3 separate regions of the Homo sapiens genome follow, and regions 1 and 3 are each linked to region 2. The links come from fine-mapping of genetic effects on gene expression. A gene starts in region 2. Each other region holds a variant in brackets. All regions are shown on one strand. Distances are from middle to middle. Region 1 overlaps BCAS1 (brain enriched myelin associated protein 1). Region 2 holds the start of BCAS1-AS1 (BCAS1 antisense RNA 1). Region 3 overlaps BCAS1-AS1 (BCAS1 antisense RNA 1).

Region 1 (2,762 bases), 28 kb after region 2:
ACTGGCCTGGGCTACTCAGTCTGTTTCTCTTCCTCCTGCCTAGGGGCATTTCTTATCTGGGCAAAAAGCCCCTGTACCCAGCGAGGTGAAACTTGCAAATGATACTGTCACCTTCCTCAATGGACTGCAGCTCAGGAGCTCACCAAAGGTTGCAGCAGACAACCCCCACGGTGTTTGGAGACAAAGGAATAGCAGCTGCCTGGTTTCCTTGAATCACCCCGTGCTCTGACGATGGCAGTGATGGGCCTCCCACCAATGGCTTCCCCAAGTGCTGTTTTCCTGCTTCATGCCAAGTTAAGCATTCTGATACTAAGCGGCACGAGATAGTTCTCAACTGGGTGAGGCACAGGTGTGAGTAATCTCGAGGTATGGTCAGGAGGTTTGAAAAAACTAACCCAGCTGCAAGGAAAAGACCTCTGGTCTTTATTGGAAACACGAATTTGACCTGTCCAAGCTGGGAGCTAATAGGCCCCAGCAGCTCAGGATCCCCTCCTCACTTACGCTTGGGTTTTGAGTGATACCATATTTTTCTGAACACATTTTCCAAATGCCTATTTGCCAAAGCCGTGGTGTAATTTGCCTAAGCAGCAAACTTGTCCTTAGAGTCGAGGTCCATCCACATCAGGAGAGTATATTCAATGTTTATCTCCGATCAATGTGTGATGAATTGCATATGAGATAGATTTGTGTGAGCCAATGTGTGTGTGTGGATCTGTGTTAGTTACATGTGTTTATTTGCATGTATGTAAATATGACTGTGTGAGTGCATGGATCTATTCCTGCATGATATATATTTATATATATGAATATGTGCATATATATGCAAATATGGGTATAAATATGTATCTGAACATATAGGTGTGTATCTGTAGTGGACACTGTCAATGCACTCATCCTCCAGTTACTTAGGCATCCCAGCTTCTCAGCTCAATGGGGGCCGCTTGCCCATCCCCCCACCTCCCAGGGCAGCCCAGAATTCACCTACCAGGGTTCAAAGGCTGGCTCCCTTGACTCAAGGTCAAACTATCTGGGTGGTGCAATTCATGCTCCAGTTGAAACCAACCCTTGCCCAACTCTTTTCTTGCCCTCTTCTTTTTCTCTTACTCCCTTTCCCTCGGAGCCCACTCTCAGTATATCCTATGCGTCCAAATCCCCATCTCAGGCTCTGCTCCAAGCAACCTGGCCTAAGACAGCACTATTCTATACATGCATGTGTGTGTACATGCAAACATACAACTGCACACATTTGTGTGTGTGTGTGCCCATATACAAGGAAATCCGGGAAGATCTGGGAGAGAATGATCTTCCAAAGAAGATAATGGAGAAAGAGTATGGATTTTATAATGTAGAAGTTAGAGTCATCTCAGATATAGAGTGGGACTGCTTTGAAGTTGAAAATTAAAAGATACTTTAGAAGTAAATGTATTTTTTATTAAATCAGAAAAAGAAAGATAC[A/G]GTTTACATGACTGTCAGTCAATCATATGCTACTTTGAATTACATTTTAATAGACTCAGGGTCCTATTTACTCCTTTGTACAGGTATTAAAAACAACTCAGGTATTTGAGAAGTCTTCTGTAAATTTTTATTAACTGAGGTTATGGGGAGGGTTTTATCAGAGCACATCCTGAGAACATTAGGAATGACAGACACACTTGAGATAAGTGTCAGACGGAACAGATGAAGCGAGCCCCTCAGCCATCTGAGAAACATTAATAATGTAAGATAGCAGAGACCAAATCTTTGTTAGGGATACAGTATTACAGGATAAAAATGGGGACCTTGCCGCCCCCTTGTGTTGCAAAATAACCGTGCAACTTCCTTTATTTTTTATTTATTTTTTTTTTTTAAGTTGTAATCTTTGCCGTTGTCACTGAGCCTCAAAAGCAATTGTTTTCCCAAATCATTTTAAGCCCTCCCCAGTCAATCTTTTCCCTCTCATCAATAACTTACAAGGACCCTATTTGAAAAACAACGCTTATTCATTCCTTTTTCTATACCCCACACATTCCGTTCTAGGAAATTGGCAACCACCCAACACAGCCCGGGTTCTCCCTCCTTGAGATGTGAATTTAAACAAATGGATTTTCGTCTCCCTTCTTCAAGCTTAGAGGATAAGCACGCATTTACTACAACGCTTAATTCCTTCTAGCAGCATTTCTCTTCTATAACTTACTTGCCACTGCCTTTTTTTTTTTTTGATAGAATCTTGCTCTGTCGCCCAGGGTGGAGTGCAATGGTGCAACTTCGGCTCACTGCAACCTCCACCTCCTGGGTACAAGCGGTTCTCGTGCGTTGGGCTCCCGAGTAGCTGGGACTACAGGTGTGTGCCACCATGCCTGGCTAATTTTTGTATTTTTAGTAGAGACGGGGTTTCATGATGTTGGCCAGGCTAGTCTTGAACTCCTGACCTCAGGTGATCCACCTGCCTCGGCCTCCCAAAGTGCTGAGATTACAGGCGAGAGCCACCACGCCCGGCCACCACTGCCATTTTCATCACTTAACCCGAACACATTCCTCTATTCCCTCCCTTTCCTGCTTGGTGATCATCGACTCTTCTGACCCAACTAGGTGACCTGCTAAACCATCTTTACTGTTATTTGCCAGAAAAGACTGGACCAGAGACGTAAATAATACACCTCAATATACAACAGCTCGGGCTTAATTTCTAGGCAGAATTTCATTTGCTGGCCATCAGAAGAATATATACATGGAGCGTGTTTGGGGAGGAGATGGAGTAAGGAGAACACATCTTGGTGGCAGGA
Region 2 (2,762 bases):
CCTCCTCCCAGTCTTTTCTCTCACCCTGACTCTGAACTTCTCCAGGCCTGGTGTTATGTTTTCTGTAGCGTGACCTTATAACTAACCATCCCATCGAAGACGCTTGGGGGAGTGAAAGGAGGGGCTATTAATACTTCTGCAAAAACTGGCGCTGCCCTGAGCACACTGGGATGCCTGGTGGTGGTGGTGGTTAGGTGTAGATTTCTCCCCATTCCTTAGTGCCTCACAAGGGTGCTGTAAAACGTTTGTCGAGTGTGTTTTATCAACAGTCTCAGAAGGGGTGGTAAAAAAAAATACTCGTTTGTTTCATACAGAGAGAAATTGCATTACAAAGTGATGACTTACAAAATCACCGAAAGGAAATCAATGGTGAGGTGGAGCCAAACCTCTGCTGTAGAATTTCTGGATTCAGATAACACAGAGCTCTCTCCATCAAGCATTTGTGTGCAGAAGCTAAGCTCCAGGCCCAGGGAGAGAGCTTGAAGCAAAGACATAATAAAACAGTAACAGCTGCTACCGAAGCTGTGTCATGCAACTTTGCTTAGCCCTTTACTGTATGGTCTCATTTATTCCTTAAGGAAGGTGAGATTATAATAGAAAAGGAAAATGAATGTGCCGCAGTCACACAAATCACTCACTACTACACTGCCACCAGAGCCCAACAGAGTAGCCACAATTGTTTTCTTCCTAAAAGGTGCAATGGAGTAATACTGCACAATTTCCATTTAGATGTCCCTTCAACACGTTTCCTGGGAATCTTAGAGCAGTTAACACCCATTTAGAAAGGAGCTTTTTCATTTCGTAAATATGTTCAGTGCACCAAAACAGGCAAACAAGATAACCCGAACTCTTAACTTGCCTCAGCACCTCACCCCTTAAGATACATAGAAACAAATCAGAAATTATGCTCAATAAGGAATTTGCAAGGCTGAGGAGGGGGAGCTGGAGTCAAATCAGCTGGGTCTTCCGCCCCCTTCAGTAGGAGGGGGAAGATTACTGCAGAGAATGTAACAAGGAGAATAAGAGAGAGGGAGGGAGGGGGAAGAGAGAGAGAGAGGGAGGGGGGTGGAGAAAGAGAGAGACAGAGAAGGAAAGGAAGAAAGAAAAAGAGAGAGAATAACTGTTGGTAACGGACAGCCCAAGAAAATTGTAGAAAAGTCCATCTCTGGTACCTACCTGGTGCCACCTTCCCCCCACCCCCGCGTTGTTTATTTATTTATTTATTTTTTCTAGCCACCACCATTTTGTTGCCTGGCAGAGGTGTGAGATGCAAGGCTGTTTACAAAGCCCCCAGCAAGAGCAATCCCATCATCAGGAGGTTTGCTTCCCCCCCGGGCCAGCCCTCTCGCTCTCCATGCCCGTCTTGGCTGCATGCGTTGTACCTAACACATTTAACCCGCGTTTCTTAAGAGTTCTGCAAAATGGTGTCTGCTGGTGTTTGCAAGGGAAGCTCCCGCTGGGCGTCCCGAGCTGGGTGGGAGCTGAGTGTGCGGTTCCCTAACGAGCTGGCGGCCGGCCTGAGCGGCTCTGATCTCCAATTCTGACGGCTTGTCCTTCAGGTGACCTATATTATCTGGCACCTCAGTTGCTGCTCACAAAGAAAAAGTATCACTGGAAGAAAGAAAAAAAAAATCCCAAGTGATTGTGTACATGCTCTTTATTGAGAATATTAAACTCAGACGCCCTCTGCTGGGCAAGACGGGAAGGGGAGGCTGGGAGTAGGGGAGGGTGGCCGGGAGGGCTCAGGAGAAGCCGGGGACGGCCTCCTTCCTGTGAGATCTGTGGGCATGATTCAGGGCAAAGGGCGCCCATCAGAGCTGCTTTAGGCAAAGGGAAATACAAAACAAAAGTGAAACCGCTGACAAGGAAATCATTTAATTGGGGAGAAATGACAACTTCTTCACTTGGATTTTTTTTTTTCCTGTTCCTAAAATTGTTGCTTTTGATAGGTGAGAGGGAATGGGGTGGGGGAGACTGCTGGACACTGCCAACTTATTCATCAAGACAAAGGGTTTGGGTTTCAGGGAAGTCCTAGCAAAGAGTGTGGCTCAGCGGGTAGAAGGGTAGCTGAAATACCAGGACATTTTTGAGAGTGAAACAGAGTGCTATGGATGATGATGCGGACACAGCAGGTATAGTCCAGAGTGTCCCAGGCAAATCTGACTACCTAGTCCAGCACTGCACAGAGAGCTTTCTAGGATGATATGAATGTTTTGCATCTGTCCTGTCCTATCTATCTATCTATTTATTTATTTATTTTTGAGACAGAGCCTTTCTCTGTTGCCCAGGCTGGAGTGCAGTGGCACGATCTCGGCTCACGGCAACCTCCAACTCTTAAGTTCAAGCGATTCTCGTACCCCAACCTCCCGAGTAGCTGGGATTACAGGCACCCGCCACCATGGCTGGCTAATTTTTGTATTTTTAGTAGAGACAGGGTTTCGCCGTGTTGGCCAGGATGGTCTCAAACTCCTGACCTCAGGTGATCCACCTGCCTCAGCCTCCCAAAGTGCCGGGATTACAGGCGCGAGCCACTGCGCCCGGACTGTCCTGTCCTATATGGTAACCACCACCCACATGTGGCTACTGGGCTCTTGAAATGCAGCTACGCAACTGTGAGGGGATGAATTCTTAACTTCATTTAATTTTTGTTATTCTGAATTTACATTTAAATAGTCACGTATGTCTAGTGGCTATCAGACGGTAGAGCTCTGGTCTTACTATTCACAGGAACACACCGTGACCCCCATTGACAGCAGCTAAGA
Region 3 (2,762 bases), 21 kb after region 2:
TTTGTATTCTCAAAACTGTTAAGCTACTTGTGAACAACTGGCCAGCAAAGATAGGGAGGGGGCAGGGGATGCGGAGAGAGGGTTGTGAGCCCAGAGGGGAGGAGAAAGGCTGTTTCTCCTCAGTTCTCACAGAACCTCTATGAAAATAGAAAGATTTATTTATTTATTTACTTTAAAGACTGTGAAGTAGAGACAAGGGGTAGATTCTAGACATTGAAGTTGGAGGTGTGAGTGGTAAAGAGGAGAAGAAACATGTTTTAGCAGGAACTTGAATAAGCTGATTGAAACTCAAAGAACAGTCTGTTTCCATAAGCATGAACATTTCTTAGACACTCATTTTGTGCTTTGCATGGAATACATCGTTAAATCCCCACAGCAACTCAGTGAGGTGGATTCTACTAGTGTCTCCACTTTATGGATGTGAAAGTGAAGCTGGAAGAAGTTAAGGAACCTGCTCAAAGCCACGTGGCTAGCAAGTAGCACCACTGGGATTGCAACCAAGGCTGTTTGGACCCAGAGCCTGTGTTCATAGCTACTGCTCTCTTCTGAAGATAAAGGAGGAGACAAGGATGTCAGCATGACCATAGCATACATGTTCATTTATTTAGAGCCAGGGAAGGGGGTGGGACACTAATCAAGGTTGCCCCTTCCCTTCACTTCCCTTCCCTTCCCTTCCCTTCCCTTCCCTCCCCTCCCTTCTCCTCCCCTCCCCTCCCCTTCCCTTCCCTTTTTTCTCCTCTTAAAGCCACCAACTGTGCTAGGTATTTGTATGTTTACTCTCAGATCATTTTTCCAAGCTTCTCTTCAAACTGCATTTCCCAGGTTCCATTACCAACTGGCTTCTGGTTAAGTTCAGCCAGTGGGCGGCACTGACACGTATTTTTCCTGCCTCCTCCCTCCAGTCAACAAAAAGGTACTGCTTGCAGAAGCCTCCATTGGGTTCCAGCTACCCTCAAGCAGCCTCACCCCCATCCACATGGGGTTCTATTTCCCACAGGGTGCCGGGTTCCCTAGCTCCAGAAGCATCACCTCTTCCCTTTGGCTGTGTGTCTCTAGTGGTGGTTCTTTTTGTAGCCTATTTCTATTTCTTTCTTTCTTTTTTTTTTTAAATTATACTTTAAGTTTTAGGGTACATGTGCACAATGTGCAGGTTAGTTACATA[G/T]GTATACATGTGCCATGTTCTATTTCTAATCTCCGGGTGGGCCTCACGGCCCCATGGTTGTCTTTTCAACTCTTCCAGTACCTTTAAAACTAGCACCCATATTAATGTCCTTCTATTCAGCTCCTTGTCATGGGATAGAGGTTCCCGAGAAAACCCTAAGACACAGATCACAGATTTTTCTTTTTTTTTTTTGGAACAAAGTCTCGCTCTTGTCCCCCAGGCTGGAGTGCGATGGTGTGATCTCGGTTCATGGCAACCTCTGCCTCCCGGGTTCAAGGGATTCTCCTGCCTCAGCCCCCCGAGTAGCTGGGATTACAGGCGTCTGCCACCACACCCGGCTAATTTTTGTATTTTTAGTAGAGATGGGATTCTCCTTCCTCAGCCCCCCGAGTAGCTGGGATTACAGGCGTCTGCCACCACACCCGGCTAATTTTTGTATTTTTAGTAGAGATGGGGTTTTACCATGTTGGCCAGGCTGGTCTAGAACTCCTGACCTCAGGTGATCCACCCGTCTTGGCCTCCCAAAGTGCTGGGATTACAGGCGTGAGCCACCGCGCCTGGCCGACACAGAGGTTTTTAACCTAAGACACAGACCCTGAGACAAAAACTTAGGTGCAAGTAGTTTATTTGGGAAGTGATCCCAGGAAGCACAAAAGGTGGGGTGGGGGGGCGTGCTCATGAGTATGTTACTGCTGTGGGTGACGGGTGGCTCGGTCTTGCTGAGGACCCTTGAGAGAACACAAAGACGACCCCTCAACATTGTCCCACTGAGAGATGGGGCAGCTGAGGTGTTTACCTTTCCTCTCCCATCTTTCACTGATTGAGAATTGTCCTTCGGGGCATAAAATTTCAGGTATTTTCAAAATGCCATGCAGGTGGGCTAAACAAGCTCCTACAGCCCCTGGAGAAAGCCACCGAGAGGAAAAGCAAAGAACGAGGAGTTTTGGGGTGGGAAGCTGTCAGTGCTGCAGGTAAACTCGGGTAGTCTGAAGACGATGGGGCAGGGCAGCCACAGCACCTACTGCCATGGCGACTTGGCCACCGTTATAAGTAGATGCAACTGTACAACCAAGGATAGCCAAGGGTGGACCTGAGCCCCCTCTCCAGAAATTCTGCCTTACTTTAGAATGGGGTGAACAGCAGGGAAAATGAACATTTTTCTTTGCTTTTTCTCCTCCCTCCTTTCTTTTTTCTAGATAAGCCAGCCAGCCAACTGCTTATGAGGATAAGGAGAAACTGGGGCAAAGTTTAAGGATGTCGCAAAGTCTGGGTGGCCTTCAGTCCATGAAAGAGAACACATCTGTTCTATCTCAGGCTGAGGTCATCTGCATCCTCATCAATAAGCTGACTGAGCACTCATTACCTGCCAGACACGGTGCCTACATGCTCTAAATGCACGGTCTCGTTTATTCTCAGCAACTTTCCGAGGTAAGTGCTGTTAGCATTCCCATTCCACAGAGGAACAAACTAAGGCTCTGAGAAGAAGTAATTTGCTCAAGACCTCACAGCCTGGGATCATGGGTATGAATCATCTGGGTGAATGATGAGGCCAAATCCCAAGTCCATGTTTATGACACTTAGAAATAACCATTTAAATGTC

The links.
Region 1: its variant is fine-mapped to the expression of BCAS1-AS1 in whole blood (INTERVAL, PIP above 0.99). The same link has a PIP of 0.9 or more in spinal cord.
Region 3: its variant is fine-mapped to the expression of BCAS1-AS1 in whole blood (INTERVAL, PIP 0.99).

The regions. Positions count from the first base shown.
Region 1 is chr20:53,942,132-53,944,893 of GRCh38, forward strand. It overlaps BCAS1 (brain enriched myelin associated protein 1), which reads right to left. Exons shown (of 13, transcript NM_001366298.2): 13 at 1,410-2,762. BCAS1-AS1 (BCAS1 antisense RNA 1) reads left to right here. Exons shown (of 5, transcript NR_199019.1): 5 at 44-1,450. Among named protein-coding and RNA genes, the nearest start is that of BCAS1-AS1, 28 kb to the left of the region's middle. The variant A/G (reference allele first, on the strand shown) is at 1,456.
Region 2 is chr20:53,914,249-53,917,010 of GRCh38, forward strand. BCAS1-AS1 (BCAS1 antisense RNA 1) reads left to right here and starts at 1,241. Exons shown (of 5, transcript NR_199019.1): 1 at 1,241-1,318.
Region 3 is chr20:53,935,005-53,937,766 of GRCh38, forward strand. BCAS1-AS1 (BCAS1 antisense RNA 1) reads left to right here. Exons shown (of 5, transcript NR_199019.1): 2 at 2,359-2,590. Among named protein-coding and RNA genes, the nearest start is that of BCAS1-AS1, 21 kb to the left of the region's middle. RefSeq lists an enhancer at 8-509. The variant G/T (reference allele first, on the strand shown) is at 1,163.